Homo sapiens: one gene and its partners. The protein of the gene in region 1 interacts with the protein of each later gene in a pairwise test. Each region holds a gene or a part of one and is shown in the gene's direction. Other genes may lie near its edges.

Evidence for each region.
Region 2: the proteins of CERK (region 1) and NOTCH2NLC interact in binary tests that used the Homo sapiens proteins (3 or more experiments, as listed by UniProt).
Region 3: the proteins of CERK (region 1) and KRTAP19-6 interact in binary tests that used the Homo sapiens proteins (3 or more experiments, as listed by UniProt).

Annotation. Positions count from the first base shown.
Region 1 is NC_000022.11:46,736,227-46,739,977, reverse strand, and holds the start of CERK (ceramide kinase), read left to right. Parts: upstream 1-1,725; 5' UTR 1,726-1,829; coding exon 1,830-1,971; intron 1,972-3,585; exon of another isoform or gene 3,586-3,675; intron 3,676-3,751. UniProt on the Homo sapiens protein: Catalyzes specifically the phosphorylation of ceramide to form ceramide 1-phosphate.
Region 2 is NC_000001.11:149,388,699-149,392,449, forward strand, and holds the start of NOTCH2NLC (notch homolog 2 N-terminal-like protein C), read left to right. Parts: upstream 1-1,922; 5' UTR 1,923-2,089; coding exon 2,090-2,224; intron 2,225-3,751. UniProt on the Homo sapiens protein: Human-specific protein that promotes neural progenitor proliferation and evolutionary expansion of the brain neocortex by regulating the Notch signaling pathway.
Region 3 is NC_000021.9:30,540,887-30,544,117, reverse strand, and holds KRTAP19-6 (keratin-associated protein 19-6), read left to right. Parts: upstream 1-2,253; 5' UTR 2,254-2,284; coding exon 2,285-2,461; 3' UTR 2,462-2,583; downstream 2,584-3,231. UniProt on the Homo sapiens protein: In the hair cortex, hair keratin intermediate filaments are embedded in an interfilamentous matrix, consisting of hair keratin-associated proteins (KRTAP), which are essential for the formation of a rigid and resistant hair shaft through their extensive disulfide bond cross-linking with abundant cysteine residues of hair keratins.

The DNA of each region.
Region 1 (3,751 bases):
TGTGAGCCACAGAGCCCGGTCAACATTTCCTCTTCTTGTAAGGACGCGCTGGATGAGGGCCCACCCTAACAGCCTCATTGAATCTCCTGTGTGTTTTGTAACTGATGTTGCTGTCTCCCCCAACGGAGCTCCTTCGGGGCCTAAGCACTTCTGAGTCGTCTCTGGGCCCCCACCTCTGGCTGCAGGATTTTAAGCCAAGGCGTGCAGCCGGGGGACAGCAACGTGAATACGCCGGGAGGGGCACGGGGAGCCTAAGCACAGGGAGGCCCAGGGAAGGGGTCCCCAGTAGGGACGCTGGTGCTCTCGGGCCCCTGCCCATGCCACCCTTGCCTGCCAACCCTCTTCGCATGCAGCGGCACCCTCCTGCCACTGGCATGAGCTTTTCTTTCCAAGTAAGTTTCAGATCCACATTTCCCAGGCCTCAGAGCGGCAGCTGAGGGAGGGAGGAGGCTGGGCAGGCCTCGCTGCTGCACACCCCACTGTGTGCCACGATCAGGTACTGCCTGCTAGGACTCTGACTGGGCCCACGGTGGCTGCAGGACTGTCCTGGGGCCTTCACTGCATGGCCTGAACAGGGGCTGGGCTCCCAGGGAGGAATGATTCATGGCTGGTTCCCGCCCTATAGACAAGACAGTCACAAGGAGCTGGCAGGGTAAGACCTGTATATGCTGCCACCTGGTGCCAGGCACAGCAGCAAGGCCACGTGGACCTAGCCCACCTCACCTCTGCCTGCAGCAGCAGGGCTGGGTAGGGGAGCCGAGGGGAGGGGCAGGCCTCAGACCTCAGTGTCACATCCAGGCAGTGTCAGTGTGAGCCTAGGCTCTGCCACACTGGAGCCCTGTGCTCTTGGGCAAGTGACTTAACCTCTGTGAGCACAGTCTTCACTGATAAATCAGGGAGGGATGTGCCCTCCGAACCAGGTTGTGGCTGCTTCCTATGGGGCTGTGTTAAGCACTGCGGACGCAGAGACTGGAGCTTGCATGAAGGCGCACGGCGTGCTCTGAAGGCAGGGCTGGAGTCCCTGCAGGCTGGTGATTCCTTCAGCTGTGGGGTCAAGGAGGCCTTCCTGGGGAGGCGGTGAATTGGGGCCACAGGGGCCGTGTCTCTCCAAGTCTGGGGCCCAGGCTCCGGTTCCTAGGGCCAGCTCGGGGGCGGCTGCTCAGCTGTCTGCTCTGTGGCTTCAGGCCCCAGAGCAGTTCAAAGGGCCAGCGCCCCCGCCCCCTAAAAAGACCTCCGCCTCCTGAAAGCCTTACCTGCCTGTCGGGGCCCAGCTGCAGGCCCCCTCCCAGGCCGACAGGACGCCAGGATCGTAGAGGGCACCCGCCGCCCAAGGTCACGTCGCCCGTGGCGCCCCCATCCAGGCCCGCCCCCCGCCGCGCCCGATCGCCAGGACTGCGTTTCCACGCCGCCCGGACCCCGCCTGAACCGAGGCCCGCGCGGAAGGCGCCACTGAGTCCCGGCCGGCCGCGGGAGCGCCAGATTCAGCACCCGGCACCCGCCGGAGAAGAGAGGAGAGAAAGGCAGCCGCCTCCCGGCCCCAGCGCCCTGGCCTCGGCCAGCCCCATCCCGGCCCCTTCCTCCTCCCTCTTCTCCCCTTCTCGGGTCCCCCCGTCTCTCCCTGGCTCCCGGCCCCTCCTCTACCCACGCCTCCTCCTCGCCCCCGCCCCGCCCGTCCCCTCCGCGGTCCCCGCCGCCCGCGTACGGGGTGACGCAGCGCCGCCTCCCGCCGCCCGCCGCCCGCCGCCCGGGCCACTGCAGGGGCCGCTAACGGTCCGGCGCCCCTCGGCGTCCGCGCGCCCCCAGCCTGGCGGACGAGCCCGGCGGCGGAGATGGGGGCGACGGGGGCGGCGGAGCCGCTGCAATCCGTGCTGTGGGTGAAGCAGCAGCGCTGCGCCGTGAGCCTGGAGCCCGCGCGGGCTCTGCTGCGCTGGTGGCGGAGCCCGGGGCCCGGAGCCGGCGCCCCCGGCGCGGGTGAGTGTCGCCGCCGCCCGGGTTCGGCCGGACCTGGCCAGGGAGCGGGGGCGGCTTGGGGGACCCGGCTGGGGGGACCGGGTGCAGGGAGCGAGCGGCTGTGGTAAGGCCGGGGGCCCTGGGAGCGCAGGCGCCAGGGAGGGGTCGGGGCAGGCGGGAGGGAGGCCGGGGCCAGGGGCCGGGCTGTGCGCCGCCGTCTGCTCCGGGAACCCGAGGACAAAGCGCCGCGCAGTGGAGGGGAGGCCGGCGCCCCATCCCCGCGGGGAGGTGGGACCCGGGGCGCGGGGTCGTGGCCCCCGGTGCGGTCTGTCCGCAGGGCACCTCTGGACAAGACGGACTGTGGATGGATCCCGAGGGGGGGTGCCAGGCGCTCCCCACCGCGCGCATTGCAGTTTACTCCAAGAACAGATGCTTTTCTTTAGCAGGGATCCGAAACCTGAGAGGCGCCCTTGCAGGGTGAGGACTTCCTGTTAAGAAGTTAAAGAAGGGGCCCCTGACTTTCTGTGGGGTGTGCTCCCTGCTCGGGATGGGGGAATTGGTTTCCGTGCCACGGGTTGGCTACTTGCCCCGCAGAGGCCCTCCGGATGAGGAGAAGAGTGACTTTGGTAAACATGGAGGACGCATAGCCCACCCTGGAGAGAGCCCTGCAGGAGGACAGAGGGTTTGTTTTTGTTTTTTGTTGTTTTTTGTTTGTTTTTTGTTTTTTTTTTTTTTTGAGTCGGAGTGTTGCTCTGTTGCCCAGGCTGGAGTTCAATGCCACGATCTTGGCTCACTGCACCTCCGCCTCCTGGGTTCAAGCAATTCTCCCTGCCTCAGCCTCGGAGTAGCTGGGATTACAGGAGCCCGCTACTACGCCCGGCTAATTTTTGTATTTTAGTAGAGACAGGGTTTCACCATGTTGGCCAGGCTGGTCTTGAATTCCTGACCTCAGGTGATCTGCCCACCTCAGCCTCTCAAAGTGCTGGGATTACAGGTGTGAGCAACCGCACCCAGCCTTTTTTCTTTTTAATTATTGGGGTGGGTGTGGCAGAGGCCAGGATTCATGCTGGATGTGCGGAGCTGGAATGGGGTGGGTGTGGCGGAGGCCAAGATTCTCTGGTGGATATTCGGAGCCTGGGATGACACCTTTAGACCCTGTGGGCAGTCGAGGTCAGGAGTTCTTCTGGGCGCTTTCTGGTGCTGAGTGGTGAGGATCTGTGGGTTGGGTTCTGGTGGGGACAGAGTTGAACGTTAGGTGGGGCCAAGGTCGAGGGGTGGTCTCAGACCCATGACCAACACTTGGTTTCCAGCCCTGGGGTCACCTATCTGTGGCTGGGCATCTGAGACTTGACTTTCCTAAGGTATTTCTCATGTCCCCTTTGGTAGAAATGTCACACCCCAAATATCACCCACCAGGGCCCACACACAAGGAGAACAGGTGCCTGACCTGGGCCCGAAGGGTTTGTACTTTGTTGTAAATCCCTAGGCTTCAGGAAGATGACTGCCTCCCCCAAGCACTTCCTAAGTGCGGGCCACTGGGCTTCAAACCGGATGGGTTCCTGAGAGGCAGCTGCTCCCGTCCTAGGGATGCAGGGGCCGATCTGCAGGGGCTGGAAGTGACTGGCCCAATTAGCTGCTGTGCTTGTAGCCACTGGGCTGTAAGGCTTCCCTCAGGCTCCAGCCGCCGCAGAGACGCCAGACCCTTACAGGGCATCTGTGTGGGAGGTCAGTCATCACTGCTTTCTGCCTTGGCGTCCCCAGCCAGCTCCCATTATGGTTTCTGGTCCCCCAGGTCAGGGCT
Region 2 (3,751 bases), on another chromosome or scaffold:
GTGGTGTCGGCAAAGCCTTCTTTGGACTGAAGGATGAATTATGATTAGAAGTTCATTAAGAGGAGGAGGGAAGGGGACTACAGGAGTCATTCCAAGCCAAAGGAACAAAAGATACAGGGACAGAAACAGCAAGATATGTTTGGGGGAATCTCAAGTTAGCCAATACTGTTATTGTGTGAAGTTCACAACAGGGGCAGGGAGGACAGGAGATGGGGCCCAATGACGAAAAGGCCTTGTATGTACCATGTTTAGAAGTTTGAATTTTATCCTATAGGAGTCAGGGAGAGGTTCTATGGGTAGGATTTCCCATCCCAACAGGATTGTAAACTCCCACATCCAATTAGTCACACCTCCATTTTTTTTTCTGTTTCTTTAACATTGTCTCAGATTCATTCCTTCTGAAATCTACCTTATTAGTTCAGGTCTTCTTAAATTTGTGCCTGGACTGTTCACCAACTCTTGACTGGTCCTGGGGCTCCAGTTCACCTCTTGCTCCCAACAATCAATTTTCTACAGAACTATCAGAGCAATCTTCCTTTCCATCAATCTCAACTCTGTTCAAAAACTTTCAATAGTTTTATGTGACCTAAGAGGTAGCTGCCTCCCCACCCTTTCAGCTTGCCATTCAAGGCTGCATAATTTGGTCCCAACCCCCTTTCCGTCCTTGACTCCTCTCACTGCTAACAGAGACAGAACTCATTTACTTACTCTTTTGACTGTACCTTTGCTTTCACGAGGGCTCTTTCCTGGAATGATATGTCCATACAACTATTGTTGTTGTTCTTACTTTTAGCTCTTTTCTTAGCCCACTTGTACCCAGGTTTGATCACACCCCCTACTCTCCTGCCCTGGAAGTAACTACTATTCTGGTTATAGTCTCTTAATATCTATATCTATATCTATATATATGCATCCACAGATAATGTGTAGTATTGTCTTGAAAAAAATATACATAAATGGTATACTTTGTCTCCCTCTGCGATTATTTTCACTATCATTTAGTTTTTAAGATTTATCCCTATTGACATAAATAGCTATAGTCTTTTCAATTACTGTGTTGCATTTCATTTTATAAATATACCATACATTATTCATCCATTCCTCTAAGGGTGGGCATTTATGTTGTTTTCAAGGTTTTGCTATTACAGTGTTACAACGAATATCCTTAGCTTAGCTGGTCTCCTTGTCTTATACAAATTTTACTGACCTTTCAAGATCCTGCTTTCATCCCAGCTCCTCTGGGAAAGCCTTCCCTGAATCCCCCAGCCCACAGCGGCAAAGTCTTGGTACTCAAAGTTGCTTGTGCATCTTTGGTATCATCCCACTGCCAAGCACACAGCTACGCAAAGTAAGGCACTTAAGAAATATTCGCTACACGGATGAACAAATGAATGAATGAATGGGGCAGCACCACTCCGTGATGGCTCTATTCCTTTTTAATGGACTTTGGCGCCTTGGCCCACTTTCCTTCTTTGACAGCACTGGTCCTACTCCAGAGCATTCCTCTAGCTAGCAAAGCAGTGTGTGGATGTGTGGGTGTAGGTGGCGATACAGACCTCACTGGATGAGGACCGCCTCTCCCTGCAAGTTCACGATCCCGGCAAACTCCAGTGCTTGAAGTTCAGAGTCCTACCCCACCCCCCTCACCTCCACGCCCCTTCTGCACTGGTCAAGCCAGCGAGCCGCTGCAGCCCTGATCGAGTTAAGGCTGCTGGAGAAGGATGCGGACGGGGCCAGTGACTCGTAGTAGATCCCTCCGCGCGGAGCTCGGGCCGGCGCTTCTTCCTGCGGGAAACCCCTGGGTGCCCAAGGCGGCGGGGCCGAGGCCGCGGCGACAGTGGGGCGGGGCTTGCGGTGGGAGGAGGCGGCTGAGGCGGAAGGACACACGAGGCTGCTTCGCTGCACACCCGAGAAAGTTTCAGCCAAACTTCGGGCGGCGGCTGAGGCGGCGGCCGAGGAGCGGCGGACTCGGGGCGCGGGGAGTCGAGGCATTTGCGCCTGTGCTTCGGACCGTAGCGCCAGGGCCTGAGCCTTTGAAGCAGGAGGAGGGGAGGAGAGAGTGGGGCTCCTCTATCGGGACCCCCTCCCCATGTGGATCTGCCCAGGCGGCGGCGGCGGCGGCGGCGGCGGCGGAGGAGGCGGCGACCGAGAAGATGCCCGCCCTGCGCCGCTCTGCTGTGGGCGCTGCTGGCGCTCTGGCTGTGCTGCGCGACCCCCGCGCATGGTGAGTATCGGGCTGAGGGGCGCTGTCCGCGGCGCCCGGGGCTGCCACCTGGGGCGACCCTTCTCCCCCTCGGTCCTTCTCTGTGTGGGAAGGCCAGGCTCGGCCGCCGGCGCGGAGCGAGGCCACTCGCTGGGTTCCCGAGAGTTTGGACATCGCCGGGGGCCCCTCCCGTGGTGCCCCGCCAACCGCCGGGGTTCCCCGCCAACCGCCGGGGTTCCCCGCCGCCTCTGCTCCCCGCGGCCCGGGACCCCTCACACGCCTCCTCGGCAGGAGGGAGGCCGGCAGCAAGTCTCAGAAACTCCTTTTTCGTAGTGCCAGGGTGCAGGGAGGTGGGCAGTTTTGCCCTTCAGGTTCCGCGTTTCTTGGGGTCGAGCGAGAGCCGACGGCGGGCCTCGGAGGGGCTGAGCGAAGGCGTGCCAGATTCTGGCGTGGAGAGCGGGGGCAGGGCCGCCAAGCCAAACGGCCTGCACCTTCGCAGCCAGCCTCGCCTTTGCCAGGGGGCGGCACATGGGCCGGGTGTGTGGGCTTGGTTTGGATGGGGACGGGGTTTTGCGGCGCGCCTGAGTTTTGACACTCCAACCCCACCGAAAGTCCGGAGGAGCCGGGTGTGCTGCTCGCGTCTTTGAAAGGTGGAGGCAGGAGAAGTAGGGCAACTGGTGTGGCTGCATGCTGAGGCACATGATTTAAAAATCTCAACTGCTGTTATTCTTTCCGAGGCGCGGAGCTCTGCTGCTGTTTCAGGCTGTGTCCAGACCCAGGAATGTGGTGTGACGATCACCAATTCCTCCAACCTGGCAGCAGCATTTGCTGCTCCTTTGGCATGGCTGGGGGTGGGGCACGGGCGGGTGAGAAAAAGTGGATACGTCAATTCAAAGGGCTTCCTTAGAAAGCTTCTTTATGGTTGGATGTTTCTAACACGGTTGGACCAAGGAAAGGGAATCAAATCATATCTTCCCCATCCCACCCACACTTTTAGATTCTACATTTCTTCAGACCCTTTAGTGGAAATAACTTGGGCTTTGGAGCCCTGCTCTGTAATCCTGGATTCAAATCCAGCTCTGCTATATGAACTCACCAATAAAATGGGAATGAAATTATCCAGCTAATAGGATTAATTAAAATAATGTATATTAAACGGATGACACTCCAAAGGTGTTCAGAAAGTCCTTTGAGGGCCGAGGCTGTGTTTTACTGCTTCTGAGATTGATGCTCCCAGTGGGATGGTGTCTTGTGCATATTTGTTGAACGGAAAGCAGCCCCTTCTTTTTCTGAGCCTAATCTGAATAAAGATTTTTACCTTCACCAAAAAACTAGTACATGAACTACATCTGTTTTCAAAGAAAAGGTTAGGAAGATGATGAGCTTCAGAAAAATATGGTCTTTGTTCATTGTTAACAGTCAGTCGACATGTCAATCGCAGATGTTTAAAAAGAGAACAAGGTTATTTATCACCCGAAAATAGTACTGGGTTGTTCAGCACCAACTAGATACTTCTTGGAAAGTTCAAATTTCGTACACGTCTAGGTC
Region 3 (3,231 bases), on another chromosome or scaffold:
GGTACTGTAATAAAAACAGACACATAGACCAACGGAACAGAAGAGAGAACCCAAAAACAAGTTCAGACACCTACTCATTTTTGACAAAAGTGCCAAAAACATACACATGGGAAAAGACAGTCTCTTCAATAAATAGTGCTGGGAAAACTGTACATTCATGTGCAGAAGAATGAAACTAGTCCCCTATCTCTCCCCATATACAAAAATCAAATCAAAATGAATTAAAGACTTAAATAAAAGTAAACTATGAAACTGCTATAAGAAAACATTGGGGAAACTCTCTAGGGCATTGGTCTCAGCAAAAATTCCTTGAGTAAGATTCCACAAGCACAGGCCACCAAAGCAAAAATGGACACATAGGATTACATCACGTTAAAAAGCTTCTGCACAGCAAAGGAAGCAATCAACAAAATGAAGAGACAACCCACAGAATGGAAGAAAATATTTGTAAACTATGCATCTGACAAGGGATTAATAACCAGAATATATAAGGAGCTCAAACAAATCTGTACGGAAAAAAAAAATCTAATAATCTGATTAGAAATGGACAAAAGAACCAAATAGATGTTTTGGAATCCTCATTCGCTATTAGTGGGGATGGAAATTAGTACAACCACTATGGAGAACAGTTTGGAGGTTTCTCAAAAAACAAAGAATGAAGCTACCATATGACACAGAAATCCCACTGCTGGTGCTAAACTCATCTTTAGCATCAAACCTAATCTCTAGTCCCTGACACCATGAGCTACTACAGCAGCTACTATGGAGGCCTGGTATACATCCAAAGGAAGGGAAAACAGTATATCAAAGAGATATGTGCACTCCCATGTTTGTTGCAGCACTGTTCATAATAGCAAAGATTTGGAAGCAACCTAATTTTCCACCAACAGATGAATGGATAAAGAAAATGTGGTATGTATACACAATGGAGTACTAGTCAACCATAAAAAATAATGAGATCCTGTCATTTGCAACAGAATGGATGGAACTGGTCGTCATTATGCTAAGTGAAATAAGTCAGGCACAGAAAAACAAACTTTGTATGTTCTCACTTATTTGTGGGAGCTAAAAATTGAAAACAATTGAACTCATGGAGATAGAGACTAGAAGGATGGTTAACAGAGAATGGAAAGGGGAGTAGGTGGGTGCAGGGTAGGGGTGGGGAGGGATGTGAGTGATGGAGGAGTAGGGGTGGTTAATGGGTACAAAGGAATAGAAATGATGAATAAGACCTAGTATTTGATAGCACAAAAGTGTGGCCATACTAAGTTATACTCTCTTAGTTATTTTAAAATGTATAATTAAATTGCATTTAAATTAAATTATTGATTTAATCGAACATTTTAAAATAAGAGAGTGTAATTGAATTGCTTTAACACAAAGGATAAATGCTTGAGGGGATGGATACCCTATTTATCATTTACCAGTGATTATTACTCCATTAACCAGTGATTAGTATGCATTGTCATGTCTGTATAAAAGTATTTCATATACCCCATAGATATATATACTCTACTATGTATTCTTAAAAATAAAATTTGAAAAAAGAAAAATAATATTTAATGGAACTTCATGGGAAAAGTGTATGCAGAGGAAAAGGTACACTTTTGAAGTTAATGGATGAATAAAAAATTGGGAAGAAGCCTAACAAAAAATTGGCAGAGGAAGCTAATTGAAGGTTTCTCATAGAAATTAAGGCAAGAAAGCTTTACAAAAGAATGAATGGATGGAAGGTTAGCAATGTCAAAGGTCAATTAAAGTTCAAATGAGTCAAAAACCAAGGTTTCCTCTAAATTTGACTACTGGAAATCACTAATGACTTTGTGACTATGCCCTGACTACCATGAAGAGAAGTCCTTGGGTTCTGGGAATGAAGTAACCAAGACGATGGACTGCAAATTAAAAAGAAAAGCAATATGAGGTTATGTAATTACAGCGTTACTGGAAGCTATCAACCCGATTAGACCATTTTAATTACAACACCAGCCTGGCCTTTGAAGTGGCTATAATCATTTTTCATCTTCAAAATATTTTGTTCTTAGGAATGCAAACTAAAGACTAAAAGTCTTTAAATAATAGTTTGGACCCTTTGTTACATAAGAAAAGAAAAAAAATAAACAATTGTTAGACTTAAAATTATTCTGTTATGTGGAAATAAGATCACCTGTCATTGTTGTTCATGACACCCACTACTTAGAGTATAAAATCATTCTGAGAAGTTAGAGACACCTACACTCAGGAAACTCATCATTAGCATTGAACTGAATCTCTAGTCCCTGACACCATGAGATACTATGGCAGCTACTACAGAGGCCTGGGATATGGCTGTGGAGGCTTTGGTGGTCTGGGCTATGGCTGTGGCTGTGGAGGCTACAGATATGGCTCTGGCTATGGAGGCTATAGATATGGCTGCTGCCGCCCATCATGCCGTGAAGGATATGGATTCTCTGGATTCTACTAAAAAACTTGCTGATTCTCATACTCTAACTCCAAGATCTTGCCCGTATGCTTCAGCAAGGCGAACACTTTTCTCAATGTAGAGAAAATACCTACCATTTTTTGGCTTCATGCTCCAGAAGGAACTAGCCATCAGTTTTTATGGAAGAATCTGGAATCATTACATTGAATCAGGGTTTCACCTATTATTATTTAGTCACTGACATCTGTTGTGACATGTATTTTAAAATAGTTTTAAATAAACACGTTTAACTTGAATAGCAAACATGGCTTTATCAATTCATTTTAGTACATTTCAAATGCATTGATGAGACTTCAATCAAGCTGTTTGTCTTCTTTCCTCTGAATTGGTGTTTTTATTTCAACAGTTTTGCCTCAATAATATATTTTATTCAACATATATTCATTGTGTGTCTCCAAATTTGGGCACCATTCTAAGTCCTGAAGATATAAAAGAATAAGATGGACAAAATCACTGTGTACTTTCATCTGTCTTTACTTTTTATCTGTTTTCAGTGGTTTTGTGTGTGATTTTGTTTTTAGAATATGATTATGTACACTATTATTTTTATGACTTAGTTTTAAACAATAACTTATTGCAATCTTCATTCCAATTAGTGTGTTTGTATTCTGAGGTTTATCTCAAAGCACAGTAATTCTATGTTAATCAATGAAAGCGAATTTTAAATAAAACATTGAGTTAATATAAATAATATTTGTAATAATACGTAAGGTCTAAAGAATGCTATCAAAGCTCGCATGTACCCAACACTG